Linked DNA regions of Homo sapiens: region 1 is linked to region 2. The links come from fine-mapping of genetic effects on gene expression. A gene starts in region 2. The other region holds a variant in brackets. All regions are shown on one strand. Distances are between the middles of the regions. Region 1 overlaps LMO2 (LIM domain only 2). Region 2 holds the start of LMO2 (LIM domain only 2).

What was found.
Region 1: its variant is fine-mapped to the expression of LMO2 in nucleus accumbens (GTEx, PIP above 0.99). The same link has a PIP of 0.9 or more in caudate.

Annotation. Positions count from the first base shown.
Region 1 is chr11:33,858,044-33,873,545 of GRCh38, forward strand. LMO2 (LIM domain only 2) reads right to left here. Exons shown (of 6, transcript NM_005574.4): 3 at 11,667-11,944; 4 at 11,303-11,543; 5 at 6,559-6,774; 6 at 533-1,532. The coding sequence starts at 11,673. The coding sequence ends at 1,313. Among named protein-coding and RNA genes, the nearest start is that of LMO2, 26 kb to the right of the region's middle. RefSeq lists silencers at 1-109, 11,120-11,199, 11,390-11,469, 11,490-11,909, 12,340-12,579. The variant G/C (reference allele first, on the strand shown) is at 9,065.
Region 2 is chr11:33,886,313-33,901,814 of GRCh38, forward strand. It overlaps LMO2 (LIM domain only 2), which reads right to left and starts at 5,764. Exons shown (of 6, transcript NM_005574.4): 1 at 5,483-5,764. It overlaps LOC105376621 (a long non-coding RNA gene), which reads left to right and starts at 7,634. Exons shown (of 3, transcript XR_931176.3): 1 at 7,634-7,723. RefSeq lists enhancers at 5,220-5,329, 7,707-7,876.

The DNA.
Region 1 (15,502 bases), 28 kb before region 2:
GCATCAGTTCATGGGGGCGGCCTGACTCCGGGGAAGGCAAACACACAAACCAAGGTGCCTGCTTTAAATCCGCAAAGTAAAGGTCCTCTTAACCACTTGTCATAAAACACCCTGAGACACCCGTCTTGGAAAATCGAAGTGTCAAGCTCAGCATCTTTGCCACATTTCAAACTAGGTAATTACCTTCTCTCCCAAAGGGAATCTGCTTTATGTATTTGTGTCCTTTCTAGGTTACAAGTTTCCCAAAGGCAATGATCTTGCCTTCCACTCACTCCATACAATGCTGAAGTGAAATGCATATTGTACAATAACAATTTAATTATTCTACATTCCTCTGAGCTACATGATGACCTGTTACATAATTGCCAGTAATATAGAAATGTGCCTGCCTCATACAAACCCTTGCAATACACAGAAGTTTTTATTTGACCTAAGAGTAAATTGCTTATTTGCTTCTCCTTTAGAAAAGAAAAAGCAGAGCATTTCCCCGCCATCCCAAATTATAAGTCGTAATCAAATAAACAACACTGTATTTCAGTCTGTCATTTTTATTAAGCCTGCAGAGCTGTTTTTTTTTCTACACACGACAAATACTTTGATATAATCTAGGATAATAAAATAGTTGAACAACTTTTTAAGATTTATATTTGTATAGAAACAATCTGTGGAACTCCTCCCCTCAAAATGAAGGTGTCTAAAAACAGTGATTCATCAGCATTGCTTTAAATAATTGTTTGGTTAAAAGTTGTGGTTTCCATTCTCAACCGAAATGCGTCTCCATGCAGTTTTCCTTGGGTCCAAAGCTTAAGGCCTTGGGAAGGGGGCCAAGAAAAAAAGAATGGCCACTCTCCTTTCTGTCCTTCCCTTGTGTGGAGGACAGTGATTGAAACAGGGGAGTTAAAAAGCCAGGAAGAAAAGAAATCAATTGCACATCTCTAGTTCGCAAGCGTCAAAGTCACAACAAGTCTGTACACAACAACTCTCTATCTGTAGATATGAAATTCCATCATGATAGCACAGCGCCTGCTTGCCCCTAAATGTTCCTTTCTTCTGCTAATCATGTCAGTTACTATGGATGGGCTGTGGCCATAAGTTCTCCCTCAAGGGCTGGTCCTTCTGTCACCTTGAAGTGTCAGCCCCTGAATTATGCCACTTGGATGCTATGTCTTGATACCCAATAAAGGTCTACCATCCCCTAAGAAATCCCTTACCCCACCCTCAAACCCCCAAAGTGCCTAAGAGTGAAGACGAAGATGCCATGGAGACGGCGTCTTCAGTGAACACCTCCCCAAAGATGCCCGGGGACTCGGGCCTATATCATCCCATTGATCTTAGTCCACTCGTAGATGTCCTGTTCGCACACTATGTCAGAGTTGATGAGGAGGTATCTGTCACCTACACAGAAATGCTTCTGACAGGCGGCGCATTTGAAACATTCCAGGTGATACACTTTGTCTTTCACCCGCATTGTCATCTCATAGGCACGAATCCGCTTGTCACAGGATGCGCAGAGACCGTCTTGCCCAAAAAGCCTGGGGCAAAAGAAAGAAAAGCTAAGAAGACAGTGAAAGGGACAATCCTGGAAGACAGGGCTCGGGGATGAGCCCTAGAAAGGAGGCCGAACTTTCAGGATGTCAGGAAGCCAGGGAAGGTCGGCTCCAGAAGGAGGGCCGGCTAGTGCAGTCTTCACCAGCAGGCAGAGGGAACTCAGATGAAACTGGCATTTGGATCTGGCATAACTCCTCCCTTTTCTGAGCCCTCTCCTTGTCTGCAGCAACCGCTCATCATTCCCCTAGGCTGCCCCCTGGCTCCTCCTCTGTGGGCAAGGCTCTCAGCTGATGTGATCTATCATAAGGAGTTAGGCAAGTATTACCTGTCCCCTCCCAGGGGAACCCTCATTTCAGAAGAGCAGCTGGAGAGAGACCCTAGGGGCCCCTTTGAGAGGGTACTGACCAGGAATGCAATAAAACGGGCATTCTTCTGAGGCTCCCAAACTCTATCATGTCAACAGCCACTGATTCTACCCATGGGGAGAGCTGGCCTTGAATACCTCCATAAGCTGCAAAGCACATCTCCCCCTGATTATTCGCTGGGGCCCCAGCTGCTGGGAGACAGGGAGTTCCACAGAAAACACGCGGTGCAGCTAATCGTGCCTCTGAGATATGGAGGACCAACAGCATCTCTCCACCATGAAGGGAGGATCTTAATTCATGGCCCTCGCTGCCCACTGGCATGAATCAAAAGGGAAACTTCTTTTCTGACATTTAAATCAAGACTCTCCCAAGCCTCAGTTGATCAGTCACTTATTTCAGGCAGTATTCAGTGTCAAGGTGGGAGACAGAACATGGCAGGGCTCAGTGCAGTGGTTCTCAAAGTGTTGGTCCTGGGACCAGCGACATCAGCACTGCCTGGGAACCTGACAGAAATACAAATTCTCAGGCTGGGCGCAGTGGCTCACACCTGTAATCCCAACACTTTGGGAGGCTGAGGCAGGCAAATCACTTGAGCTCACAAGTTCGAGACCACCCTGGGCAACATGGTGAAACTGTGTCTTTACAAAAAATACAAAAATTAGCCGGGTGCGGTGGTGCATGCCTCTAGTCTCAGCTATTAATACTTGGGAGGCTGAGGTGGGAGGATGGCTTTAGCCCGGGAGGTGGAGGTTGCAGTGAGCCGAGATCATGCCACTGCACTCCAGCCTGGGCCACAGAGCCATACCTTGACTCAAAAGAAAAGCAAAAACTAAACAAACAAACAAAAAAACAAATTCTCAGCCCTCCTCCTTCCCTACCCAACTGAGACACCCTGGGGAGAAGGCCCAGCAGTCTGTGCGTTAATGAACACTTCCGGGGGACTGGTTGCAGGCTGACATTTGAGAATCAACAGCAAAAGTGCAGTAACACAAGTACCGGAAGCAGAGAAGACCCAGCTTCAATGTCCCGGACCAGCCCTGAGTGACCCTGGAGAGACCTCTGATTCTCTGAGCCTCAGTGAAATGGCAGCCATCATAGGCTCCACCTCACTCAGCTGTTAAAACAACCAAACGAAGCATGTCAGGGCACCCATGGTCAAGGGCTAAGCCAACGCTGGTTATGTTTTAACACATCTTGGGTGTATTCCCAGCTGTGCCAGTCTTGCTGCAGGAAGTAATTTTCACTCGTGGCTGAAAACATAGCATGTTAGCAGGTGGTTTCTACATAAAACCTTTAGGACAGTTTTAGGTGAATGCTTGCTCTTATTGGAAGTTCTGGTTGATTTCAGGATATCAGAGAATCAGTGGGTACATTCTGAGAGGTTGTAGGGGACCTAAGGGCAGTTGACACATTTTGCAATATTTGGGCGAGATTAATGGAATTGACAAGAGGTGGTCTGTGAGTGGAGAGCTCATTGTTCGGGCCAGGGCCAGCTAATTTGCCTCTGAATCCTGCTTTCCATTTGAAGATCTCTGAGTGTTTTCAAAGCACCGCCTGGGAGCAAACTCATTACTGGGGGGAGAACATTTTATCCCAACGTAGCAGATGGTGGAGCTGCAGGTAACCGCCACATTGGAGGTCACAGAGTGGAAAGACAGTTCTGGTTTCCTGACTGCTCTGTAAGTTAAGTTTGGGCCTGAGCAAGGATGAACGACTGAGAAAACAGTGTGCATGGAATGAATCCAACTGCCTGGGGTGTGCGATCCTTAAGGAAGGAGGGAGCTTATTAAAGGGAAGTCAGGGGGTAAATTACAACCCACATCAGGCAGCTATGAAGGGAAGGACAAAGGACGAATATGTGGGAGACAAGTTCAGGTCCCAGCATGACCTCTAACTTGCCAGGTGACCTGAGCAAATGGAGTCCCCTGTACAGGCTTCTGTGACTTAAGCCATAAAGCAAGGGAACTGAAAAAGAAGGTCTCTGTAGCCCCTTCCAGCTCTGGGATTCGGAGATTCTAATATTAGTAAAAAATAAGCCGGGACTTGACACCTAACTTGAGCATTAACCTCTGGCACCAAGAATTGGTATCTTAGGCTGGATATCCCAGAAGCAGCCCCTGAGGCAAGGATTGATGTGCCAGTGATTTATGAATGAGGCATTCTCAGGAAAAACCTGGAAGGCAGCAGGGGAGGCTGGAGGGAAGGGGAGGAAGCCAAGCCAAGTTGTATCCTCAGGCAAAGTCCCTCAGAGGGGAGGGACCCTGGAATATAAGTTATGCCTGGCTCCAGGCAAGGCTGCGGGGCTTGGTACTCCCACCATGTCTGTCACTGGTTAAGGTCCGTTGGGGGTCTAGTTGGGGCAGGCATACTTCTGGCTCTAACAGATTCAGGTGCTGGCTGTTAAAAGCAAAACCACTGCCATCACCGCCACCCCACCACTCCCAGCACACAAGAATTAGTGAAAAGGGATCCAAGGAGATCTGGCTCAGCACAGACATGAACAGCTGCTCTTGGGTTCCCAACAATACAACACAGCAGCAGAGTTGAGGTTCTGCATGGGGGTCTCATGAATGTTTGAAGCTAAATGTCGGAAAAGAACTGTAACAGGCAACTCAGCCATTGGAAATCCTCACGGGGACAAGTTATCCTAGGGGTGAAGAACTCAAACACATTAGAGGGCCCGTTCAGTTACTCCTCCAACTTGCCTTGTTAAAAGATCCTGCCAGATATACTAAGAATGCCAGTAAACAAGACCTTGGCTAAAGGACCATCCCTGACGCAAAAGACAATTTTTCTCCTCTGTCAAGAGATGTCCCATCTTAAGCTCTCTGCTGCCCATTTTAATAACAATAATATAAATATTAAAGAATGGCTGGAAATGCCTGCACTAATGCAGAGTTAATTAACATGTTGCCTAGGAATGTGGCAGGGAGAAGAATTATTTCATGTCACCAAGACACAAGTTAATTAACATTGGGTTCTCCCAGACTGTTTTTTTTTTCCTCTCCTTTTTGAAAATGGAAAGGATTAACAAGCCCAGGCAGCACTGGTTTTATTCCTGAATGTTATATAAAACGGTAGAGATAGGGAGAAGCTGGGGCTCTTCTGACCTTACTCTATCTGCACTTCAGTTAATAAGATTCAAATGATTTGACAGGGATGGAGTCAAGGGTCCGATGGGAATCATTTACCCGTCTGCCCTCTCACTGACTTGGCAAACTGGGAGTGAGCAAAACCAGGTCTGTATTTATCCAAGTTCTATTTTCTGTGACTTAAAAAAAAGAAAACTGACCAAAATTATAAGCATGATCATTGCAAAATCCTACTTATTTTCTCGGAACCACCATATCTGCAAGGACTGCAAGAACTTTATCTGGGAATTCAAGGACAAAAAGCTTCTTCTAACAGTCTTTAGGTAAAGCTTCCTTCACTGTGAAACTGCCTGCAGTTTTTTTGGTTTTGTTTTGTTTCTATAATGTAAAATGCTCTGAGGGCAGGTTTGGGAGGAAAAGCTGGCCCAGCAGCCAAGGGCGCTGAGGTCTCAACAAGCTTCCATGGGTTGGATGGTCCTGGTGTATCAGGGAAGCATGCTTCACAGACCCTCTGCTCCAGGAAAACGGAGAAATACTGACAGCTACACAGTTGAGCAGATCTGACAGTAGAGGGCACAGAGACAGTTACCTCCACAGCAGCTCATCGGAAACTAGAAACACTAGTACATTCTAGGCAAAGGCTTTCACACAGTGCTGGAAAATTCGGATGGCCAATAGGATGGCCCAGAGCATGGGAGATGTCCTCAGCTCCTGTCTTACTTGGTGTTGTCGAGTTCCTATTTTACTCTTCCATTCTTCCATCCCTTTGCTCATTAGATTGGAAAATAATGATTATGTAAGAGCAGCTAACATCTATTTGATCCATACCAAGCCAAGTAGTTTATCTGCATTATTCCATCAAATCCTCCCCACATCCTTAGAGGTAGGTGCTATTATCATCCCCATTTTACAGATAAGGAAATCGAGGCTTAGGAAGGTTAAATAACTTGCCCAAGGCCACCAAGCTGGGAAGCAATGGTATTGGGACTCAAACCTCCAACTGCCTACAGGGCCTTTGCCTTTCTGCTCTTCGAAGACTGCCTTCCTGCTATGAGTCAATGCTTGGAGCTCCATATGCTTTCTATTTTTAAATTTCTCATCATATAATACTGGAGTCATACAAAAAAAATTTATAACATACATATATGTTCTGAAGCATTCAAATGAGGTCCTCAGAGCCCACCTCCAAACTTAGAAACACTCCCAGTCCCTCTGATCCTCCGTGTGTACTCCTCCTCAATCCCATCCCCTAGCTTCTCCCGCTCCCCAAGGGAAGCACTTTTCTGAATTTTGGGTATACAATTCTCTTGCCTTTAAAGATATTAGTATTTTACCACATAGGAACGTAACCCTGAGAACATGCTTCTCAAACAGGAAGAAATGCCCTCTGCTTCTCAGCACAGGAGCTGAGACTCAGCCTCTGCAGTCTGACCTCTTTCTATAGGTGGTGTCCGAGCCTGGAGCAGGGTAAGGGGCAACACACACCGACTGCAGATGTCCATGGACCACCCAGCCTCCCTTCCGAGGGCCCAGTGGAGTGCCGGGGAGGGTACCTGAGATAGTCTCTCCGGCAGAGCTTCCGGCCCAGTTTGTAGTAGAGGCGCCGCCCCACCTCACCCAGCCGGCAGCCACAGAGGTCGCAGCTCAGGCAGTCCTCGTGCCAGTACTGGTCGATGGCCTTCAGGAAGTAGCGGTCCCCAATGTTCTGCTGGCAGCCGCCGCATGTCAGCAGGGATGGGGGGATCTGCAGCACCTCATCCACTGGTTCCCTGGAGAGAAGGCCAAGCATCAGGGACAGCCTCACCAGAGTGAGACCAGCACCGAGGGTCCGAGATCGTTTTGGGCCAGACAGGGCATCTCACCTGACTGCCTTTCAGTGACCTAAGGGAGAAGGGACAGGACAACACATCCCTTGGCCAGACTGCAGAGTCCCAACCAACCTTGGGTTAAGACGGGAAAGAGCCAGACCTTACTCCCTAGATGTCTAAGAAGTAAACACAGGGCACCAAGAGGCATCAAAGGCAATTGCAGGTGGCACTGTGCCCCTGCCCATGCCCAGCACTACCTGGGCACCTCTGGTCTCCTTCTGCTTTTTCCCACTCTCCCCGCTGACTCTATCTTCACAGATCTCCCTCATTTTCCTCCTCCCATAACCTGGACACCCAAGGGCACTGCCTAACCTCAAAGGACGCACTCTGGACTAAAAGAGTCGCTCACTGCCAGGGCAGCAGATGACCCAGAGTGCTAAGAATCTGCAAATCCCCAGTGCCATCCTCCCTCCAGCCCTAACCAACTGCACAAAAGCAGAGGTGAGGAAGAAAGAAGAATGAGACCAAAAATTATTTTAGGTTGCTTTCTCTTTCCAAAATCAAAATTCCATCAGGACATAATAGGAATTCTCCTAATTTTACTTTTTTACAGAAATTCCATTTTCCATTCTTCCTACTGAAGGAATACTTGGAGGAAAATCCCATATCGTAAGGCCATTGTTACACGAAGGACATCAAATAGGCCTTTCTTTCCTTACCTGAACATTTTTATAAGAGTAAAATTGATTTGGATAAAGTTGATTTGAGGAAGAAAATGAAGTGGGGGCAATGATTATTTCAAAGAGAGTGGAAGGCAATTAAACAGACACTGACATCTCAATCCAGCAATTGTTAATAGGCTGTGACACGTGTTCTTTCGTTAATACGCCATGCATAGCATCTCCTGTTCACTTTGCTTCACTGGAATCTGAATACATTTTTACATTTAAAAATAAATAACTTTGCTAAAAGAAAATAAAGGAGTGGAAGGAATTATTCTAGTGTCCCCCACATGGGACACAGCAAACACTTAATACGTGTTGATTTATAATAATTAGCAAGTGTTCTCTGGAACCTTACTTAAACACAAATCTATTTCTTAAAAATCTATTATGTTTCAAAAAACAGACCTTCTTCCATCTGTAAAATTCCCAAAGGGAGTTTCCTCCTGGGTACCCTGCAGGTATAAATCCATGTCTCCTATTTCTAACTGGTACTAACTTACCAGGCGACCTTGTGTCCTAATTGGTCTGTGCCCATAAAGCCCAGCAGCCATTATACTTGGGGACAGGAGGCTAGGTGGCTCAATGTCTATAACACTCTGACAACTTCAGGTGATCCCGTCATGTGAAGTATGAAGTGTTCCTTATGAATATTTAGGAGTGCTAAAGCCATGCCCACACTTTCTAGACACAGTGTAACAGCACTTCATGAGACTATCATCTTTGGAACAAGAAAATGGGAAGCTCAAGTTAGTTTATCTGGGGAAAAAAAATGGCCAGGTACAGTGGCTCACGCTTGTAATCCCAGCACTTTGGGAGGCCAAGGCAGGAGGATCACTTGAGCCCAGGAGTTTGAGGCCAGCCTGGGCAACGTGGCAAAATCCTGTTTCTACAAAACATATAAAAAATTGCCCAGGCTTGGTGGCATGAGCCAGTAGTCCCAGCTACCCAGGAGGCTGAGGTGGGAGGATCATCTGAGCCCAGGAAGTTGAGGCTGCAGTGAGCACTGCACTCTAGACTAGACAACACAGTGAGACCCTAGCTCAAAAAAATTCAAAACTATAGTTTTTTGTTTGTTTGTTTTGAGACACAGTTTCACTCTTATTGCCCAGGCTGGAGTGCAATGGCACAATCTCGGCTCACTGCAACCTCCACCTCCTGGGTTCAAGTGATTCTCCCGCTTCAGCCTCCCGAATAGCTGGGATTACAGGTGTCCACCACCAGGCCCAGCTAATTTTTTTTATTTTAAGTAGAGACGAGGTTTCATTCACTGAAGCCTTGCTTTCTTTCCTTTGTTTCTACAGATTGTATATAAGGACTGCCATTTCCCCTTCTAATAACTAATACCCTAGCTTTTTCATGTGTATCAACTCAGAGTTGCATCTCTTCTCTTTCCACAGCCCATGGTCTTACTCTGGGCTTTCAAAACCACTCATGGAACCTGGACGCACATTGGATGTCCCGATGTTGATGCTGCCAAAGGACTGTGAAAGAAGAGAATTTGCCCTTAGCTGGTGCAAAACTGCCTG[G/C]AATTCAAATGAACTGCTCTTGTTACTCACAGGGGAGGCAGTGGGGGCCACCAGTAGCACAGCAAGGGAATCTGTGTTCATGAATTCTGGCTGGCTTTCTGTCCAAATGTTTCATTTGCATATAGCTAGGCAAGTCTCCATCTGTAATTTGGAGATGCTGATTGTAATGACCCAAGCTGGATTTGAGGAAGTACACAATGAAGCATCTAGTAGGATACTGGACAACAGGAGGAATGTAAAGTAAAAGAGTTACGGTGATGGCCTGAGATGAGATGGAGAAGTAAAGTATAAGATATTGGCTCTGTCTTTCTATACTTAATTAATGATAATATCACATTATACTTAGTGGACAATCCAAGACAATGACTGAATTAGATTGATTCACCCTCAAATTAATATTTTATATTCTCCCAGACCCTTATCTTGAATATTACACCTGAGTATCATTTAAGCCTGGATTTCTGGGACAATCATAACAATTTCTAAGGGCATGGGGAGAATGTGCTGCAGCAATTTCTCAACTGGCTTGTCCCTCTTTGATCAGAATCTGTCTTCGTTGGGCAAATAGTGAAGTGAAGGAAGGAGCTGGTGAGCCTCCAGCAGTAGATATCTGTTGTATTAGGAAGTTAGGATGTTTCAGTTTCTAACCTCAGTGAAAAAGCACAAACTTTGAAAGAAGCAAACTTCCTTCAGGGAAATGAAACCTTCAGATTAATCTTCTATTGAAAGGATTAGTGACTAAATTCTGCTGATCAAAAAGGCATGAGGCACCAATTCATCCAATTCACTCCCTTATTGTGTTACTATGATCTTGCCCAGTCTCTGAAACTCAGAGCTCAGTTTTAAGTTTATTTTAAAAAAGTGATCAAACCACCCTTTAAACCCATTGTTTGCATAAACATACTTTTAAAAAGGAATGTTATTTTTCTCCTGAGAATTTGTTGAAGGAAGTGGGGGTTTTTGTTATAACAAACCTAGCTCATTACAGAACTGGTGTCTTAACCTTCAAGACTGAATAGTGATGTTTATATTCTCATTGGATGGTGGTACTTCCTGTGTTTTATGAGAATATGTTGAGCTTTTATGCTGGTAACTGAGGGTAAAACCCAGGTAAATAAACACCATAGAAAGCCGAAATTGAAGGGTGTATGTGTGTGTGTGCGGTATTTCAAGCAGGAAAGCACAATTCTTTTAAAGCAGGAAAAGAAAAAACAAAACAAATGTCTCTTAAAAGCACAAATGGACAAGTCATTAACCAGCTCCTTTGGTCTTGTGTAACAAATCCCTTCAAAGGATTAGAGGGGGACTTCAAAGGAATAAAAATTCTCAAAACCAGACAGCTAATGACTCTTAAAAGGGCATTTGCGTTGACAGGAAAATGATATCTTAAACACCCCTTACTCCCCATGTTAACGCTGAAGAATGGGTGAGGGATAGAAAAACATTCCAAACCAGTACGCGGCTCAGAAAACAGATGCGGCCAATGCTCATTAGAGCTCTGGTTCCCTGACCCCAAACCCTTTTAAGACTCTGCTAAAAACTACGAGACTCTACTCCCCAGAATAATTCACCTATACACAAAATGGTGCATTAACTTTCGAGGTTCACATGTCCCCATCGGTGGACCCCGAGGAGGGGTACACCTACTCAGATTTACTCCGGATTTCGCTGCTCTAGAAATCCCTGGAGGCCCAGAGCCAGCTCCGAGGTGGACGGTCGGACCCCTCACCCGCCCGTTATCCGCAAGGCTGGCAGCGGCTCCACCTGCGGACCGGGAAGGCGGCCGTTGGGGACCCCGGAGGCCGCCACTTGGAATGTTCCCCTTTCCAAGACCAAATGGACAAAGAGAAAGGACCGAGAAGGAGAGGGAAGAAGGGAGCAGAGTCAAGCCCAGAACGCTCTCCGGACTGCACCTGCGCGCCTCCAGGCTCTCCTCGTGCCTGCTCCCGTGCAAACTTTCTGGCCCGTGGTGGCTTTGGGGAGCGTCCCAGTAGCCTGGAGTGGCCCGCAGAGGCGCCGGGCCGACCCCTGTCCCTGCCGCCCGCCGCCCAGTCCCTCTCCCAGAGCCCCCGGAATCACCCGGGAGGAAGGAGGAGCCCAGCGCTCGGCACAGGGGGCCAAGGGCACGCCGCGAGCGCGCACCTGGAGCCCCCTCGCGGGCCGCCCGGGTCCCCCCGACGCTCCGGGACGCGAGGCCGTGGACACCGGGGGTGGCAGGGGCAGGGGGGCCGCACTTACTCTGAAGGGTCCAGGCTCTTCCTTTCGATGGCCGAGGACATTGGGGAGGGAGGCGGGGTGCCGGGCGGCGGGGGCGCTCCCTTTGTGGCGCGGGGCTGGCCGGCTGCCGGGGCTCGGACCCCCTCGGGTGCTCGGGCGCCGCCGCCGCCGCCGCCGTCGCCGCCGCTCCTGCGCCTCCGCTTGCTCCGGCGCTCCGCCGGCGAGCTCGCCCCTCCGCGCTCAAGGACAGTCACCGCGCTCCCTTCAAACGCCAAAGAGAGAGAGCGAATCACCGGGCTGCGGGCGCGCCGCGGCCGAGGCGGGGGCCGGGGCGCGCAGCCTGGCTCCAGGCGGCTGCAGCTGCTGCTGCTGCTCAGGACTTAACCTTCCATCCCGGTCCCGCCGCCGCCACCGCCCGGTCCCTCTCGCGCGCTGTCGCCGGCTCCGCGCCGCCCGCGGGGATGGTGTGCGCCCGCCCGGCCGCCCGGAGCCCCTCGCACCTTCGGCCCGGGTCGCGGCGCGCTGCTCGCCGCCGAGGGCAGAGAGGGGGCGGCGGCCTAGGGGCGGGGAGGGGACCGTGCGTCTCTCTCCGGGCTTCCTCCTCTCTCGGGAAGGTCTATTTTCGCTCAGCTTCCCTCTGTCTCTGGTTTCATTTCCTTTTTCCTGATCACGATTCAAATACAATAGAAGGAAATCACATTTAAAGAGACAGCTGCCCGGTCCCCCCACCTCCCCTTTTTTCTTCCTTTTTTTTTTTTTTTTTTTAAACGGGGCTCCTGGGGATTAGCAATACAAACAGCAGCATCAGGACTGACTTGGCTTCTTAAAGGGGCCAGTGTCGGGGACGGGGAGAGCCGCTCAGCGAACACCTCTCCTTGGAAAGGAGGCTGGGCAACCACTAAATCATTCTTCAGGGCTTCCCCTCTTCCGCCTTTCCCTTTTGGTTTAACTAAGGCAGAAAGTAACCCACGAACAGCTCGAGCAAGCAAGAAAAGACAAGAATGTGAAATAAGCACCTACAGAAATGCAAGTGTTCCCAGTGGATTTTCCGCCCGTCCCAGGTTCGAGGTCCCAGGTCCACGGACGCCGTGCACTGGGATGCCCCGGACAGCGCGGCTCTGCGGGCTGCGGGCTACGGGCTGCGGGCCCCAGGCTGCGGGCTCCGGGCTGCGGGCTCCGGGCTGCGGCCGCGCTCTGCAGAGGCGATGGTGGTGCGCCAGCCGGGACTGCACGGGCTGGGGACGCCTAGAGCAGAGCCAGGGCAGCTAATCCCAGAGGGAGGGTGGCTGGGAGGGACCACGCGGGGCCGGGGCTCCTCTCAGTCGGCTGGTGGCGGAATCCCCTCCCTCTGCACCTTTCAGAAAGCGGACTCCTGCGGTTAAACTGCCCCCCATGTAAAGTGCCAGTAGTATCCCGACCAGAGAAAGTGCTTTTTCAATGGTCAAGAACAGGATCAGAGAGATTATTTTGCCCTGGGTCAGGCACAGAGAAAGAAGGCGGACTTGATTTGGGGGTTCAGGCTTCCCCCTCTCAGCCTCCTTCTAGAAAGAGGCAGGAACGCAGAGGGGAAGCGGGGGAGGCTAGTAGTTTGCCCTTCCGTGGAGAAAAACTTAGGCTCTCCTGGGCCTCAGAGTTCCTTGAAAATATCTGCGTTCAGAAGCTGAAAGGCCTATTTGTGCGTGATGCCAGTCATTAAGGCTTGTAAAGAGGGAACGTACTTTCAGGATCCATGGTTTTATATGATCAGTCTGGATCATAGGCATACATTTCTGTTCCCATTTTAAGGATAACCAGAGTTTACTACTGCCTGCATGCTCTTGTCATTTTCTGGTCCCTGTGTCCCAAGGCTTGGGTCCCTAATGGGTATAATCAAAAGCTGTGTGTGTGTGTGTGTGTGTGTGTGTGTGTGTGTGTGTGTCCCAAAGGAAGCCTTAAGAGCAAATTTTTGTCCTAGTGGAGACTTCAGTATACAAAAAGACTTTTTCGGCTGTGCTCGGTGGCTCATGCTTGTGATCCCAGCACTTTGGGAGACCCAGGCTAGCCTGAGCAACACAGTGAGACCCCGTTTCTACAAAAAATAAAAAATAAAAATAATTAGCTGGGCGTGGTGGTGCTTGCCTGAAATCCTAGCTACTCGGGAGGCGGAGGTGGGAGGATTGCTTGAGCCCAGGAGGTTGAGGCTGCAGTGAGCCATGATCGCACCATTGCCCCCCAGTCTGGGGAACAGAGTGAGACCCTGTCTCAAAAAAAAAAAAAAAAAAAAAAGTTGGGTTTTTTTTTTTCCGATAGACCCTTGTTTTTAATTTAAAAAAGAAAATACTTAGAATTTAGGCAAGCCTAAACTATGTGATAAATATGTAACCTACCACACTACTTTCATTTCTAACAGAAATGAAAATAAATATATAGGTTGTGATGAACAGTTTACCTACTTATAACCAGTCAATGTGGTGGTTAAACGCTGGAATTTTGGAACCCAACTGCCTGGGTTTGATTTAGACTCTTACTTATCAGTTAGCATGTCCTAGGAAAATTATTTAATCTGAGGAGGCAGTATGCGGTAGTAGCTCTGGAGTCAGACTACCTGGATTCTAACCCATCCTTGACCAGCTGTGTCAACCTGGGCTCACAGCAGGAATTTAAACTCCCAGTATCCTGGCCGGGCTCGGTGGCCCACACCTGTAATCCCAGCACTTTGAGAGGCCGAGGCGATCCCAGCACTTTGAGAGGCCGAGGCGGGTGGATCACTTGAGGTCAGGAGTTCATGACCAGCCTGCCCAACATGGTGAAACCCCATCTCTACTAAAAATACAAAAATTAGCCAGGTGTGGTGGCACATGCCTGTAACCCCAGCTACTCGGGAGGCTGAGGCAGGAGAATCACTTGAACCCAGGAGGCAGAGGTTGCAGTGAGCAGAGATCGCGCCATTGCACTCCAGCCTGGGTGACAGAGTGAGACTCCGTCTCAAAATAAATAAACAAACAAACAAATAAACTCCCAGTATCCTCATCTGTAAAATGGAGACGACAGAACCTATTGCCTAAGTTATTGTGGGGATTATATGAGTTAGTGCACAAAAGGGTGGCACATAGATTTGTAATGGCATGGGGGTAATAACAGATATGAAGTTGCTTGCATGAAAAGCAACTGGTATATAGTAAGCACTCATAAATGGCAGCTGCTATGTTATAGTAAAGGGCATCATTAAGATAATTTTAAAAGAGCTTGAAATTAAATTTAAAGGTGAAATGGGGGTTTAAAATAAGAATTGCCCACCCAAATTTGGAAACTATTTCCTGTTTTTTAAAAGCAGGAAACAGGATTCCTTCACCTCACCCCCTTCTTCTCCTAAATAAAACATGTAAGTGTTTTCCATTTTAACGTTCATTATCGTGGTGACTAAATGACCTGTTTGCATCTGCTTGGGTGTTATTTGTTTGTTTGTTTGTTTTTTGAGATGGAGTCTCGCTCTGATACCCAGGCTGGAGTGCAATGGTGCGATCTCAGCTCACTGCAACCTCTGCCTCCTGGGTTCAAGCGATTTTCCCTGCCTCAGCCTCCCGAGTAGCTGGGATTACAGGCGCTCGCCACCACGCCTAGCTAATTTTTTGTATTTTTAGTAGAGACGGGGTTTCACCATGTTGGCCAGGCTGGTCTGAAACTCCTGACCTCAGGCGGTCCATCTGCCTCAGCCTCCCACAGTGCTGGGATTGCAGGCATGAGCCACCGCGCCTGGCCACATCTGCTTGTTTTTATTTAATCTGATAAATTATTACTTTCCTTGTCACAGTTTTGCATGGGGCTCAAGTCAGTTTTTAAATTAAATATATCCTTGGGTTCCAAGAGGTAACCTCAGAACAGCCAAATTCAGGGCATAACGTTTCTTTTTAATAATATGCTTCTACTTTGACCTGAGTGTGTAAAGAAAAAGAGATTACTGCATATGACTTTGGGTCAGTTTCTTATCTTTCACAACTCTTTGGGGAGAACTTCCTTAGAGAAGGTGAATATTTGAAATGGTATCTTAAGATTTCAATTTCACACACAGTGGTTGTAAGAAATAACTGCCTACCGGTGGGATTTCATTCCTATTCAACGGGCAATTAAATTGCTCAAATTTAAGTTTAACATTTAGAATCAAGTCTCAAAATGTGTTTTTATTATGAATAATTTTAAAGCAATCATGACCTTATTGTATCCTCCCTTAACAACTAGTACATG
Region 2 (15,502 bases):
TGACAATTGGGCATCATTTCTATGATAAAAGTAGTTTGTAGGGGAGGTGGGACTAAACATACAGGACCACATTCCTTTTTGTTTGTCCTGATGGCTTCTCAGGATGATGTGATATTCCTGGCCCATGGTGTTGTAGAAGAATTGTACATTCCAAACAGATAGGGATGACACTGTGGGTGCAGTATTGCCGAGGTGTCCCAGCGCTGAGTAGGGAAACTGTGTCCCAGGCCACCAGCTATATCAGGCATAGCCAGCTATAAAAAACCTAAAGGTTTCACAATAACATTTTCAGTTTTTAGACTCTGTAATAGCATTTAGGGCTGGCCTTTTATAATGACAGGGGCATCTGTATCCCACAGCTGTGAGTGGCTGTCTGTGCTTTGGCATCCGTGGTGGGGAATAGACAGCCTCAGGCATTGTTATTTCAGAACACGAATGTTGGGGGGCTCCTTTGTCTTGCTCCAAGATCCACATGGTGGTAGGTGTCAGTCCAGGGGCCAATATTCTATCCCCTGTGGAACAAGCTTAACATTAGCCAGCCTTTAAATCCATCACAACTGGTAGATGTGTTAGGGGATGGGAGAGCCTCATTTCCAGGCTGGTAGAAACATGTTGTCAGGGACTTCGCTCTTCCATCCATAGCCAGCAGGTCCCACTTATTATTTGCCATTGGTCTGACACCGATGCCTTGTGAATTGTGGATAGATTGAAAAAAGATATAGGAATGAAGGATCAGAGGAGCAATCCCACATGGGAATCCATGACTTGGAACCTGGGACTCTTGTCAGAACTAGTAAGTGTAAAATGAGGGCATTTTATTATGGATGAGGGGCCCATAGGGGCAAGTATCAAGGGAGATAAGAGCAGTAAGGAAAACTGATTTGGAAACCACAAGCCATTTTGTAGCTTTAAGAGAATATACATCATTGTGGAGTTTGCGGTAGCCTGGTGGGAGAAGTGAGCCAGTGACAGACAGGAATACATGTCCACCATGGTTAGGGCATATTGTGGGGTTGGGGAACCTGAGGGAAGGACTCATTACCGTCAATTTTCCATCATGAGTGTGGTCAGTTTCCTCAGTGATTCTGCTAGGAGTGACATATTGCACCCACCCATACTTCTCCACAGATATTCAATATGTTTGGGATAGCAGTTGATTATGGGTGGGAAACGTAAATGCAGCATCTTATTGTGGAAGGCCTTAGCTGCAAGTCTCCAGGAATGTGGATTTTTTTTTTTTTTTTTTTTTTGAGACAGGGTCTTGCTCTGTTGCTCAGGCTGGAGTGCAGTGGTGATACTGTGGTTCACTGCAGCCTTGACCTTCTGAGTTCAGGTGATCCTCCCACCTCAACCTCCCAAGCAGCTGTGTGTGCCACCACGCTTGGCTAATTTTTGTTTTGTTCTTTTGTTTTGTTTTTTGTTTGTTTGTTTGTTTGCTTTTTGTAGAGATGGGGTTTTGCCATGTTGCTCAGGCTGATCTCAAACTCCTGGGCTCAAGCCATCTGCCCGCCTTGGCCTCCCAAAGTGATGGGATTACAGGTGTGAGCCACTGCACCTAGCCAAGAATGTGGATTTAATGAGCCACTAGTCCATGGAAGACTCTTGAACAGGGGAAGGATGTGAGTGGAGTTGCATTTGGGTTGGGTTGGGGTGGGGAGAGGCTGGAGGTGAGGCTGCTGTGCTAGGAGCTTAACCACCAGTGAAGGGTTGAAGAAAGGAGGTGGGGGCAGGGGGAATGACTGAGTGGGCAATGACAGAGGCACTCACGTGACTGGCCAAGACTTGTCTGCAGGAGACCAGGGAGCTATAGCCAGGCAGCTGCAGGGCCATTGATAGAAGCTGCCATGGCTTGAGCACTTGCTCTATGCATACTCACGCAAGCGCATTCGTATATGATCTCGCTCATCCCTCACACTGAGGTCATTTGTGGGATGCAAATGGCCAGCCTTATGCTTCTGCCCCATCCACACAGGTCAGGGGCCATACTCTGTGCCACTGCCAGGGGGATCCTTTCATAACCTGCATCAGATCATTTCGCTCCTCTGCTTGAAGCTCTCCCAAGGTTTCCTTCTTGCCCAGAGTAAAAAGCCAAAGTCCTATAAGGCCCTGCATATCTGGCTCTAGCCATCTCTGTGTCCCCTTCTCTTACACTCCCTTCCTCCTTCCCTCCCTCTGCTTCATCCACACAGGACCCCTTGTCATTCTTCAAACTCTTGCTTTAGGGCCTTTGCTCTTCTCCTTCTTCCGGGAACATTCTTCCCCAGATGTGAGTTCTTCTTATTAGAAAGGTCTTCCTTCATCACCTGAGTAAGACACTAATAACCCGGGCCAGCGCATTCCATTTTCCCTCACTCTGTGTTATTTTTCTCCCTAGCACATATTGCCATCTGGCATACTATATGTGTACTTGCTTATTTGATTGGTGTCTGTCTCCCCCTCTCAAGTTTGTAAGCCCCTTTCAGGCAAGAGCAATGTTTGTTTTGTTGACGTCTACGTATCCGCAGTGCCTAGAACAGTTCCTGCTGTGTATGAGGCGCCCAGTAAACACTTGCTGAGTGGATGAATGAAGTGTGTATTATCATCCTGATTCAATGAAAGGGAAAACTGAGGCTCAGGAAGGGTACGCAACTTCTCCAGGCAGGACAGCTAGTAGTCGCCAAAGCCAGGGTTCAAGTCTGACTACAAAGCCTGTCCTATTTCCGTTAGGGTAGAATACCCTCGAGGAGTCTTGGATCTTTGTAACTGAGAAAATGGATCTTTAATAAACAGAAATGGGGAAATTGAACAGGTTTGGGTAATAGGGGAAAGATGACAAGGTCATTTGGAGCTCTGCTCTTCTTTGAGTGCAGTGGGACCTCAGAGGCTAGGGGTAGCCATTTGAGCATCTCCTGTGTACCAGGCACTGTACTGGGCACCAAGAATTTAAAAATAAACAAGACACCGTCCCTACCCTTGAGGAGCTCACCAACTAGGGGTGAAATGTCCAGGACACACTCTCTGAGTTCCTAGGGCTGCAGCTAACCTTAGCCAGACCAGAGCACAGATGAGCTCGCAGCCAGACTCTCCAGGCCAGATACGGGCCAGGCAGCAGCATCCGTTCAACAGAATCGCTGAGCAGTTCTGTTGTGCCAGACAAAGCAGTCACACTAGAGATACAGAAGCAGGTCAGACAAGGGTCCATTCTCAGAAGCTCACAGCAGTGAGGAGGAAGCATCCTTCACTCATTTGTTCATTCATCTGTCAGCTAGAAAACAAGTACTTGCCATGTGCCAAACACTCCTAGGCTCTTGTTATAAAACAATGAAGAAAAGAGACATGATCCCTACATTCAAGGAACTTACAACCTAGTGGCGATGTGGAGAAAAGGAAACTCTTATACGCTGTTGGTGGGAATGTAAATTAGTACAATCTCTAGGAAGAACAGTATGGAGATTTGTCAGAGAACTAAAATTAGAACTACCATTCAATCCAGCAATCCCACTACTGGGTATCCATCCAAAGGAAAAGAAATAATTAGATACCTGCACTTGTATGTTTATCGTAGCACTAGTCACAATAGCAAAGATGTGGAATCAACCTAAGTGTCCATCAATGGATGATTGGATTTAAAACTGTGGTGTATATATATGCAATGGAATATTATTCAGCCATAAAAAAGAATGAAATCATGTCTCTCGCAGCCACATGGGTAGAACTGGAAGCTGTTATCTTAAGTTAAAAAAGTCAGACACTGAAAGACAAATATCACACTGTTCACTCATAAGTGGGAGCTAAATAATGTGAACACATGGCATTAGGGTATGGAATAATATACACTGGAGACTCAGAAGGGTGGGGGGAGGATGATGAGAAATTAATTAATAGGTACAATGTGGTGATATCAATCTGGTGATAGATATCAATAGATATCAATCTGGTGATAGATACCAATAGATATCAATCTGGTGATAGATACCTTAGAAGCCCTGACTTCAAGACTATGCAATTTACGCTTGTCACAAAATTGTACTTGTTCCCCATAAATTTATGTAAGTTTTTTTGTTTTTGTTTTTGTTTTTATGAGATGGAGTTTCTCGTCACCCAGGCTGGAGTGCAATAGTGCCATCTTGGCTCACTGCAACCTCCGCCTCCCGGGTTCAAGCAATTCTCCTCTCTCAGCCTCCCGAGTAGCTGGGATTACAGGGATGAGCCACCACGCGTGGCTAATTTTCATATTTTTAGTAGAGACAGGGTTTCACCATGTTGCCCAAGCTGGTCTTGAACTGCTGACCTCAGGCGATCTGCCTGCCTTGGCCTCCCAAAGTGCTAAGATTACAGGCGTTAGCCAATGTGCCCGGCCTGTAAGTTTTTTAAAAACCTAGAGGTGAGTAATTATAATAAGTGATATTATTATTATTATTACTCTTAACAACAATGACAATGATGACTGATGAGGGCTAAGTACCAGCTACTATCCAAGCACTTCCATGATTTATTTCTATTATTTCTCACAATGACCCTATGGGTACCCCTATATTACAAATGAGAAAACTGAGGCTGCCATCTTTCTAAGGTCTAAAGTGATTTTCTGGGAGCACAAACAAGAGCTTAATTAATTTTAACAGATAAAGACAGAAAAGGCTTCACAGAAGATTCACCTTTTCAGGGCAACCTAAAGAAGTATGGGTTGGTTTTCTTTAAGCTGAAACATTACGGCAAGAACCTGGAGTAATATCTGCTTCAAAGGGGAGTTATGCAAAGTCAACAAGAGAAGACGTGTAAAACCCAAGCACAGTACCTGGCACAAAGTAGATGCTCCCAAATCTTTGTTCCCCTTCATTGATCCTCTGTGATGGAAGGAACTTGTAGCCACTTTCCTCATCCGCCTTGGTTTTTCAAAAACACCCTTTGAAGTTATAACCTCCTTGGGAGCCAAGGCTTCTCTGAAGCACCCCATTACAATCTTTGCCCTCAACTCAGAACTGGAATGTGTTTGAAAATGCTAACAAGGGCAGCAGCCCCACCTCTTCGTCATTGCCTAAGGTTGTTAGGCAAACACACACACACACACACACACACACACACACACACACACACATGCACACACACTCACACAGTTGCTGGGGAGATCATGGTAAACACAAGCCTCTCTTTTGGATCAGAATAATTGAGTGGTCTCCCTTTGTGGCCAGTGTACAGGAACAAATTAGATGGGTAAATTAGCAGTTCCCGAAGACATTAGCAACCAGCGGCTCACACAGCAAGCGCCTGACTCACCGTGGGGCCTCTCCAAGTCACAGCCTATGAATAGATGCTCTTCCTCCCTCCGAAAGAGAAGCCAGAGTGCCCGGAACACCACAGGGGAAGCTTGAAGACTTGTACCCCTTTGGAGTCTTTTTATTTTAAAAGACCAATTTAATCACCACTTCTTCTGGCTCCTTGAAGATGAAAAAAGTTCCCTTGCAATCGTCCATTCATCAGAGAATTAATGAAGCCTACTCACCAGCAGATGATGTAATCCTGGTGGCTTCCCCCATCAGATCTAGGCTGCCTGCCCCACGGATACCTTCTGGGCTAATTGCCTGCTTTGCACCTGTTCCTTCTCGGGAGGCCCTGGCACCCTAGCACCTGGTGCCTGTGCCATCTCCCCTCTCTGCCAGGACACCCAGAGGCCCTTGTGAATAGCAAAGCCCACTTAACGGCTGAGGGCAGGTGGGGGTATTTCCTTCTCAATTCTGCTCAAGGCCCGTTGCTGTTCTTTGAGGATGTTGCAAATCCAGGGTTTGGAGGGCTGGGCCTCTTGGTGGCCTGGTTGTCTATCTGATAGGGCGGAGCCTTCACCCTTGCAGCGAGCTCTCTCACACCAGATGTGCTCTGCGTGGAATCCTAGGCCATCAGGGGATTCCTTAGCAAGCCCTGCAGGACCCAAATCCTAACTCAGACCCTCATCCTCCTACTCAGAATGTGGAGACTTGTGATCCTCAGTTTGGACGAATTCCAAGAGACCTTCCAATTCCCAGAGGCCATCTTTGGTTCTGTTCACACATAGCTCCCTCTCCCTCCTAGGCCTTCTCCCTTTGAATTTCTCCCCTACACCATCAGCCTGTATTTACTTCTCCTTCTTGCTTAATGCATGACTATATTATCCCAGTTAAGGGGGTCTGCAGGTTTTATCAGAAAGTTCAGAGGCTCACATGACCTGGATTGGAACTTGGCTCAGCCACTGACTAGCCAGACAAACTCAAATAACGTACACAGCTTCTCAGCACCTCACCCCCTCATTCATAAAAAACAGGGACAATGGTACCCACTTTGCAGGGTTGTTGAGTGGATTAAATTAAACAACACAAGGAAAGAGCTTTCCTAAGTTCCAATGCTATGTAACACACACAGTATTGTCTTACCCAGCAATAATTTCGGTGCACGGATCTGATCATCTCTTAATTAAATATTGAATTCTCCTAACACGGTTCTTTTTTTGAACCCCTCAGGGTCTGAACAGTTATAAGTGCACAGAAGTTGGGTCTTTATGAGCTGAATAAAAGGAGACTCCGGCTGTCTTCTCTTTTGTCCTTACCATAAAGCTCTTGTCAGCTGCTCTCCTGGCCCTGCCTCTGACCCTGGGCTTTGGGGCCACTATAGGCTCTCCTTTCCTTGTCCCCCTCTGAGTCCTGAAGTCCTGGTTTGCAATCTGCTGTTGCAGTTCTCTGGAATGGCTGCTTCCCCATGCGCCCCTGTCTGTCAGCTACCTCCCCCGCATGCATGTCTGTCTGCTGGGCAAGGCCCAATTCCGAGGTGACAGCTCACCGGGCCTCACCCACAAGTCTCTTCCAAGCATTAGCAGCCCACCCCAGTCCAAAGATATCTTTTATAGCTGATCTCTGGTGGCACCTCCTACCTTCCAATTAGGAGCCTGTCAACACCCAGGCCATCACTCTTCCTGCAGTGTCTGACAACACACACGCCTGCCGCGGCTGCGCCGGGAGAGTCAAGCAAAATTGTTTCCATGGTGGTGGTGGTGGCCTGAGCACAAGAGTTGAAATCTAGGTGAATCTGAATCTAGTTCTGCCTTCTCACTTTGCAAGGAGGTGTCTTATTTCTCTTTGAATTGGCAGCACCAAGCATCATGCCTGGCACACAGTAGGTACTCATAAATAAACACGTGTAAATCAAAAAGGCCGAAGATACATTGCTAGCTTGCAGACTCCCTTTCTCAATGTCTAATGATATCCAGTTCATTTCTTTCTCTTACATGTGCAAATCAGAAAGTTAGCTCATAACTCATCTGTTGTGACTTTTTCTTTCCTTTACTTTTGTGGTTGAAAATAAATTTACCCCAGAAAAGAGAGAGAGAAGGTGCCTGATTCCTTTGTCCTCCCTCTTCGATCCTCTCTAAATCCCTGGGTCATGGTAAGACTCTCTGAAATTCAGGGCCATTTTCAGACACTGGAGCCAATGAGGGAAGTATGACACAATCGAACATTTTTCTTATCTGGCAGTGTGGTCTGGTGGTTAGCATACGGGCTCTGCCAGTCGGAAGTCTGCCTTTCTATTTCTGGGGCTTAGGGGAAACCATGAAGCAACAGTCTTAGCAGCCCACTCACTCTTGCTTTCTCTTTCTCAATGTAAAATTGAGTTCACATTGGACCTGCTTACCCACAGCAGTCACCAGCTCAACCAGGGAAGGAAACGCACCACCCTGCTAGCCCTGCTTCAGCCTTGGGTGAGGCTGTGAAGGCTGGTGGTAAGCCGATGAAAGATAATCCAAAGAAATGAAAGTGAGGGTGATGAGTAGGAGAGCGGTTTGGGGCTGAGGGTACGAAGATGCCATGATGACTGACTTAACCACATCAAACTAAACCATGTCTCCTACTACAATTCACCAGCCTGAAATTGTGAGAGGATCTCGGGCGCGGAGATTTCGCTGGCTAAGGGGCACCCTGTGTGCCTACAAGAGGAGGTGGGAGGGAAGTTAACCTTGCGTTGTCCTCCAGGGCGCAAATCCAAAAGTGGGAAAAAGGGGAAGTTCTTTGATCTGAAGTAGAAAAAGTCGGGGAGAGAAGGAGAAACACCCAGAATGGCAACAAATTTGATGAAATCAGAGGGACAAAAAGAAGAGAAGGGTATTAAGATCAGATCTTCTGAAGGGCAGAGAACTATAATGACACAGTTGCTTTATTGCTGGACCCAGGACAGTTTATACAGCAGTTCGGAAAGGCCTCTTGAGGGGTTATCTGTGTCAGCCCAGCCTAGCATCGATAGAAACATGAATCTCTGGGAAATTATCTTGTGCCTCAGACTTCAAAGTACATAGAGATTTGAACAGCCTTGAAGTCGATAGGAAAACTTTCAGCATTTGATCAGTCGAATTATCCCACCATAACTCTGCAAGTTCTTGAGCCACATCTAGAAAGAACAAGGCAAGTTAGGGAAAAATCATCATTTAACATGTCATTTCTTTCCTCATTTCTACCCAAATGATCTTTAGGTCTCAATTCCTGCTCCTGTTGTCGTTTTTGCAACCAGGAAGCTGTGAGACCTTTGGGTTATCTTTAGAGTGAGACCCTCTAGAAGGTTTTAGGCCGAGCCTTGGGCTGGGTGATGAGATGGCATTGACTGTGGGCTGACTATTGCTTTGGAGTTGTGAGAATTTCCTCTCTGCAAAGGAGGTTCAAATACTATGTTTTCCCGGCTAATTGTTCATTATGCAGAGTGTCAGACTATGGTCAGAATATAGTGTTTTACAGGATCCCAGTGTTAATATCACAGAAAAGTCCAGCTGACATTATGTGATGTAGGGTGCTTTAAAAGAAAAAAAAAAAAAAACAGTTCCTCTGCAGGGGGCAACACTAAGAGAAGGATACTAGCTTTTTTTTTTGTTTTGTTTTGACAGAGTCTTGTTCCTGTCACCCAGGCTGGAGTGCAGCAGGGCGTGATCTCAGCTCGCTGCAACCTCAGCCTCCTGGGTTCAAGCAAGTCTACTGCCTCAGCCTCCCTCGTAGCTGGGATAACAGGCGCCTGCCTCCACGCCCGGCTAATTTTTGTATTTTTAGTAGAGACAGGGTTTATCCACATTGGCCAGGTGGGTCTCAAATTCCTGACCTCAAGTGATCCACCTGCCTCGGCCTCCCAAAGTGCTGGGATTACAGGCATGAGCCACCACGCCCCGCCAGGATACTAGCTTTGTGACATCAAAAATCTGGGTTTGAATTCCGTCTTGGCCCTTACTCAGGCAAGCCACTTACTCTCTCCTCCTCCACTTTTCATCTGCAGATGAGGATTACAAAACCCTCTTAAGGCTGTTGTGAGAATTTAATCAGATATACAATTAGTATAATCTCTGGCACATAGCAAGTTGTAATTTATTGCCCCTCTGTCCCAGAGTGCATGTGGAGACTTAATTTTTAAATATTAAAAACAAAGTTTTCACTGGGTTTCCAGTCTGTTGATGTTTATGGAGAGAAAGCTTTCAACTGACAAACGCTATCCAAGTGACAGAGCCCATTTCAGCATGGCGACTAAGGCTGATGATGTTCTGCTCTTAAGTGGAGATCAGCAAATGTTAAACAGGAGCCCCACCTGCTCTACCAGACAGCAGCAAAGTGCTTGTCTCATTTTCTTTCCAACATGTTACCATCCTTGTGTAACAGACAAGGTAATTTAAGCTGGGTCTAGACATGTCTGAACCAGTCTGGAGGGCCAATAGGACACCCTCCCTTCCAGACCTAATTACTTGCAGGATCAAGGAGCCTCTCAGAGAACAACATGTCCCATGGAGAAGCAAAGTTGAAGGGGCATTTGTTTTATTCAAGAACAACAGGAAATAGCAGAGGAAGAACAGCTCTCGGACCCCCAGTGGAGTCCTAGAGCAAGAGAGCTATAAGAGAGGGAGTGAAAATTGAATCAAAGGCTTTTCACTGAGATATCTGGGGAAGAGCAAGACACAAAGCTCTGGGGCCAGCTGCTTGGCTGTGAATAAAGATGATGGCACGGGTGGCTTCAGGGAATGGTGCCCTAAGGGCCAGTTTCGATGACCTTGGTTTAGGCAGCATCACTCACCTTTGAGGTCATTCACACTTACACATTCATTCATTCATTCATCTAACACATTTATTGAGTGGCTGTTATGTGCCAGGTGGGGCATCAATGCCTTTGGTGTGGAAATGAGTATCCTTGATACATGTGAATCCACAAGAAACATTCCTGGGGATTTGCTCCCAAAACTATTTGTAAAGGGGCAAGGAATGTGACAGATCTAGCGCCCCCATAGTGCAGGAGCCAGGGGAATCCACCAACTCCGGCCTGGTCACCACCTCTGCGACCCTGTTTTTATCTGAAGGCGTGTGTGGTCTGGGACCTGTGATGCTCATCTGTAAAATGAATTGGCTTGACTGCATGATCTCTAAGATCTGTATTTTATTGAAACTTCTACAGATTGAAACTCTAAGTCCTCATAATAAGCAATAATGAATCATGAACTAGACATTTTGAAAGCAGCATATATTACTTTGTGATCCAGCTTAACTGCTTGAATTATCAGTGTCTGAAATGATCCCCATCCCTCATTCCTCCCCTTTATCCTCTCTATGGTAGGATCAGGCACGACATTGCTTCAGCCCCTTCTACCATGTAGATTTACAGGCCCAGAAATGTTCGTTAATTTGGATTTCAAAGTGAATTCTTTCGTCTTTTAAATAAAGCCAAATATATATATTTTTTTAATTTTGTTTTCAAAACAGGGTCTTGCCCTGTCACCCAAGCTGGAGTGCAGTGGTGTGATCATAGCTCACCACAGACTACAACTCCTGGCTCAAGCAGTCCTCTGCCTCATCCTCCTTATTAGCTGAGACTACAGATGCAAGTCATCATGCCTGGCTAAGTTTTTTAAAAATCTTTTTTTTTCTTTTGTAGAGATGGGGCTTGCTTTATTGGCCAGGCTGGCAAAAATATTTTTTAAGTTGTGCATGAGCCAACACTGAGGACAAAAAATTAAAAATCAGCAGGCTGACTTTAACTAATGGCTACCAGTTCGCAACCTTTAATTTTAATAATTAGGTATGGGTTGATTCAGGAGAAATGGGATCTAGCCATATCTGGCTCCTACCTGGCTTGAGCGGATCATCAAACTTCTCTGAGACTCAAGTTTCCTCATCTTATGATGAGATTTTAGAATTCAATATTCCTTCCAACTCTTGACAGTCTGTGCCTGTGTTTTAGAGCAGTAATGTCATGTGTGTACTTGTTGGCTCGTGAATATGTCACCGCTTTTGCATTCAAGATTGGAAAGTATGTGCATGTCCTTTTTGCTGGGAGGTAGGAGGCTCCAAAAAAGTATCATGACTTTACCTTTCCTCTTTGTATTAGAAACAACTGAGAAATAGACCAGGAAGCCAAGTGAGAATTAAACTATAATATGTGCTCTCTTGCTGGCAAAGTGGAATAGTGACTGCCCTTTCAACCTGTGGTCAAAGTAGAGATCATTACCTCCTCCTCAAGTTTAGGCCAAAGGATCTGCCTGTGGGCAGAATTTGGGATGCAGAATAGAACTTTACACTGACAGCCATACTGAGGACCCGGCCTTCTCACACTGTGGGAGCATCACTAACAGTCAGTGCCCAGCACATCCCACCTGGGCCATGTTCCAGGTGTGCGTACCTGGCCCAGTGACTCCAGGAAGCAGGAGATGAAAAGAAACCTGACTCTACATGCAGACAGATCACTGAGCAACAAACTTCAGAGGAAGCAGGGCTACTGCTAGCCCACATGATGCCTCTGTAAGAATTAGAAAAAGCTGCCTCTTCCTCTGGGCAGACACTGCCACATCAGAGTGCGTGGCTTAGCAAGCAGGAAATAAATTATATTTCAGCCCCAAACTCATCTACCCTGCTGCATAATCACAGCAGCAGCTTGGGCGGGGCTCCCATTTTATGGGCTGAGGATGGGACTGCAAGATGAGGGCCTTGAGTCATTGTCATAAGTTCTGTGGCTATACTGTCCAGAATAGTAGCCACTAGCTGCATGTGGCTATTGAAATTTACATTCAAACTAATTAAAATTAAATAAAACTAAAAATTTCACAGCTCAGTCTTACTAGCTTCCTGTAAAGTCCTCAATAGGCCGGGCACGAAGGCTCACGCCTATAATCCCAACACTTTGGGACGCGGAGGCAGGCAGATCACTTGAGGTCAGGAGTTTGAGACGAGCCTGGCCAACATGTTGAAACCCCGCCTTTACTAAAAATACAAAAATTAGCTGGGCATGGTGGCGTGCGCCTGTAATCCCAGCTACTCAGGAGGCTGAGTCAGGAGAATCTCTTGAACCCGGAAGGCAGAGGTTGCAGTGAGCCGAGATTGCACCACTGCACTCCAGTCTGGGTGACAGAGTAAGACTCTGTCTCAAAAAATAAAAATAAATAAATAAATAAAGTGCTCAATAGCCACATGGGGCCAGTGGCTACCATATTGGACGGGCAGATGTAGAACATTTCCATCATCACTGAAAGTTCTCCCATTGTCCTATGGGACCACTTTCAGTTGTATTAGCCACTTCCGAGTCTTGACTAGCTTACCTTTCTCATCTCCTAGCCTGCCATCCCACATAACAGACTGCATTCTCTAGTCCTTCTCATGTGTTCCCAATATCCCGAGTGGAATCCAAACATCATACTTTTTGCTCCTGCTGTTCCCTCTTCCTGAAATGTCATTCCTCTGCCAAGAACAATCCATCCAATCAAATCCAGCTCGCTCTTCCAGGCCCAGATCAAATGACAACTCCCTAAGTTTCCTAGGTGGGCACTGTTATCTCTTGAGAGCACACTGTACATTTATCTGTCATAGTATGTTTAGCATTGATTCTAGTTGAGCGTTAGGCTGTCTTGTGGCCCCTGCTCACTGTGTGCCTTTGAGAGCTGGTACCTGTCTTATTCACCCCTGTGTCTCTAGGGCCAGTGTACAAAAGCCCCTCAAAGCTGCACCTCTGGGAGGAAAAGCCTCTTGAACCCTATCATTAAGACTTTGGGTCAGGTAAGTGTGTAATGATATTTTAATGCGATTAATAATTTTGATAATTTAATGTTTAATAATTCAGCAATATTTTTCATCACAATGCCTTCAGCACTCTCTCCCTGTTGTTTCTCTGAGCCCTTCTAGATGAGTACAATTTTCCCCAACTCACTGCTGAGAGAACAGAGGCGTAGGGATGGGCAGTCATCCAGGGTGACTCAGCTAGGAAATGGCAGAGTGACATTTGGACAGAGCTCTTCCTGACTCCAGAGCCCAGATGCTGGAATGCCTCTCATGTGAGGGAGTGGTCTATGGAAACGGCCTGGCAGACCCGCGTTTGTTTAATTGAGACAGAATGGAGGGTGAAGAGCTCGAATTAGGCAGAGGATTAGTTCGGGACAGCTGCCCCTGCTGCACATGGATAAACCCAGAAAAGGTCAAGGCGAAATTGAGGACGGGTCTCTGGGAGGCTTTCTCAGGCTTCATTCCTCTGGACAGGGTTAGGTGGGTCAAGTGACCTTGTTTGAACTCTCCTTTTCCTCTCCTACTCTCAGTCCGTCACTTCTTGCAAAATCAGATGTTGCAGAAAGGCAAGTTTGATTCTGTCTGGGAGAGGATTGTGTATTCCCAACTTTCCCTTATGCCTCGGCTTCAGATCAGATGCTCTGATCTCCTCTCTGTCCTTGGAGGCACCATTTCCACGGCAGGCCTAGGTGAGCTGGGAAGTTTTATGATGGCATTAAAAAAAAATTCCTTTCTGCAAGAGGCTTTTCACCTGAGTGTCAACTAACTCTGGACATCTTGTTACTGAAGCTCTTCTAGCCTGGGGAGAGACATTTTGTCTCAAAACTCATTAACGAGAGTGGGAAAACTGGGGGAAGGAAGCACAAGTTATCAGGTACAGCCTGTCCACCCATGGCTCCCTCCAACCCTGGTGTAGGTTTCTGAGGGGCAGCGCTGTGGGACAACTCCAGTAATTGCCAAAGCACAAGTCTCTGACCTCCCGCTAGAGTGGCCTCGGTTTTCTCTTTTTTTGGCCTTGTCTTCCTTCCTCTTCTAGTTTTCATGTTCTTGTTTCTCATTTTCTCTTACCTCTGTACATGCCTTAAATCTCCTAGTGAGTCCCCTGGGCATCGTGTGGCCCTACTGGGGGTATTCAGCTCAGAAAACATCTTCATACGGTTTTTGAACTCTAGCTCTCCACCTCTGTCCCCCTTCCCAACCCACAGTAAACATCTCTGTTTAATGTTTTGAGGTCCAGATTCTATGAGTATAAAGGGGTTGAATCATGAGCCAAGATATGCACTTGAGGAAGGAAACATCTGCATTTAAGGGGGCAGGTCAATTGCCTCCTGGCAGATCACCTTTCTCCCCGGCCCTGCCCTCCCCAGATTTGGGCACCTGCACTTGTTATTCGGACCTTAGCAACTGGATTCTGAGCCCTTGTGTTCCTGGTCTGAGTTCCTCCCTGTTGGTGACATTGGCTGAGCCCAATCTCTAGGTTAGGACAGCCTGACAACTCATTGCCAACTCCTGGTGATGGTTCTGTTTTGGTTTGGCATAGTCTACCTGGGACTGTTCCCCAACTCTGGGTAAGCCCTTTGTAACACCTGAGCCTCTCCCCCTAAAACTGAGCACTATCATGTAGAAGTTAGGAGCACAGCCCCTAGTGTCGGACCGGCTGTGTTTGAATCCTAGTTCTGTCCCTTGCCAGATGTGTAACCATGGACTCGTTATTTTAGCTTGCCATGCCTCTATTCTATTCTATTCTGTTACCTGTAAAAGGTAGGAATTATAATGCCCATTTCATGGTGGTGGTGTAAGGATTCACTGCGATAAGACCAAAGAGATGGGACCTTCTCTCTTGAGAACTTGACAGTTAGGTCCAAAGGAGTGTGAGTAAAACCCAAGTGCAATTTAGGCAGGTGACAATAACCACAGAGCCCAACCTGATGGAATAGGCAGGAAGTTGTATGGGGAATTGATGGCAACAGAGTCAGAAAACAGAGCGGTAAGTATTAATGCAGAGAAAAGTGAGATCCATAGGCAGAAATTCTATGTAAGGCCAGGCTCTTTGGCTCACACCAGTAATCCCAGCACTTTGGGAGGCCGAGGCGGGAGGATCAATGTAGGTCAGGAGTTCAAGACCAACCTGGCCAACATGGTGAAACCCCATCTCTACTAAAAATACAAAAATTAGCCAGGCTTGGTGGTGTGCGACTGTACTCCTAGCTACTCAGGAGGCTGAGGCAGGAGAATCACTTGAACCCAGGAGGCAGAGGTTGCAGTAAGCCAAGATCACACCATTGCACTCCAGCCTGGGAGACAGAGAAAGACTCTGTCTCAAAAAAATAATAATTAAAATTTAAAAAGAAGAAATTCTACCTAAGAGCCCGAAGCTGCCCTCTGCCCTCTCCCGTCTCCTGCAGGACATGGCGCCAGCTCCAGGTTAGGGTAATCTGGAAACTAGCCTTGAGTGAAGGGGCTGAAAGGGCTCAGGCAAGTGGGACAGGATTTATAGC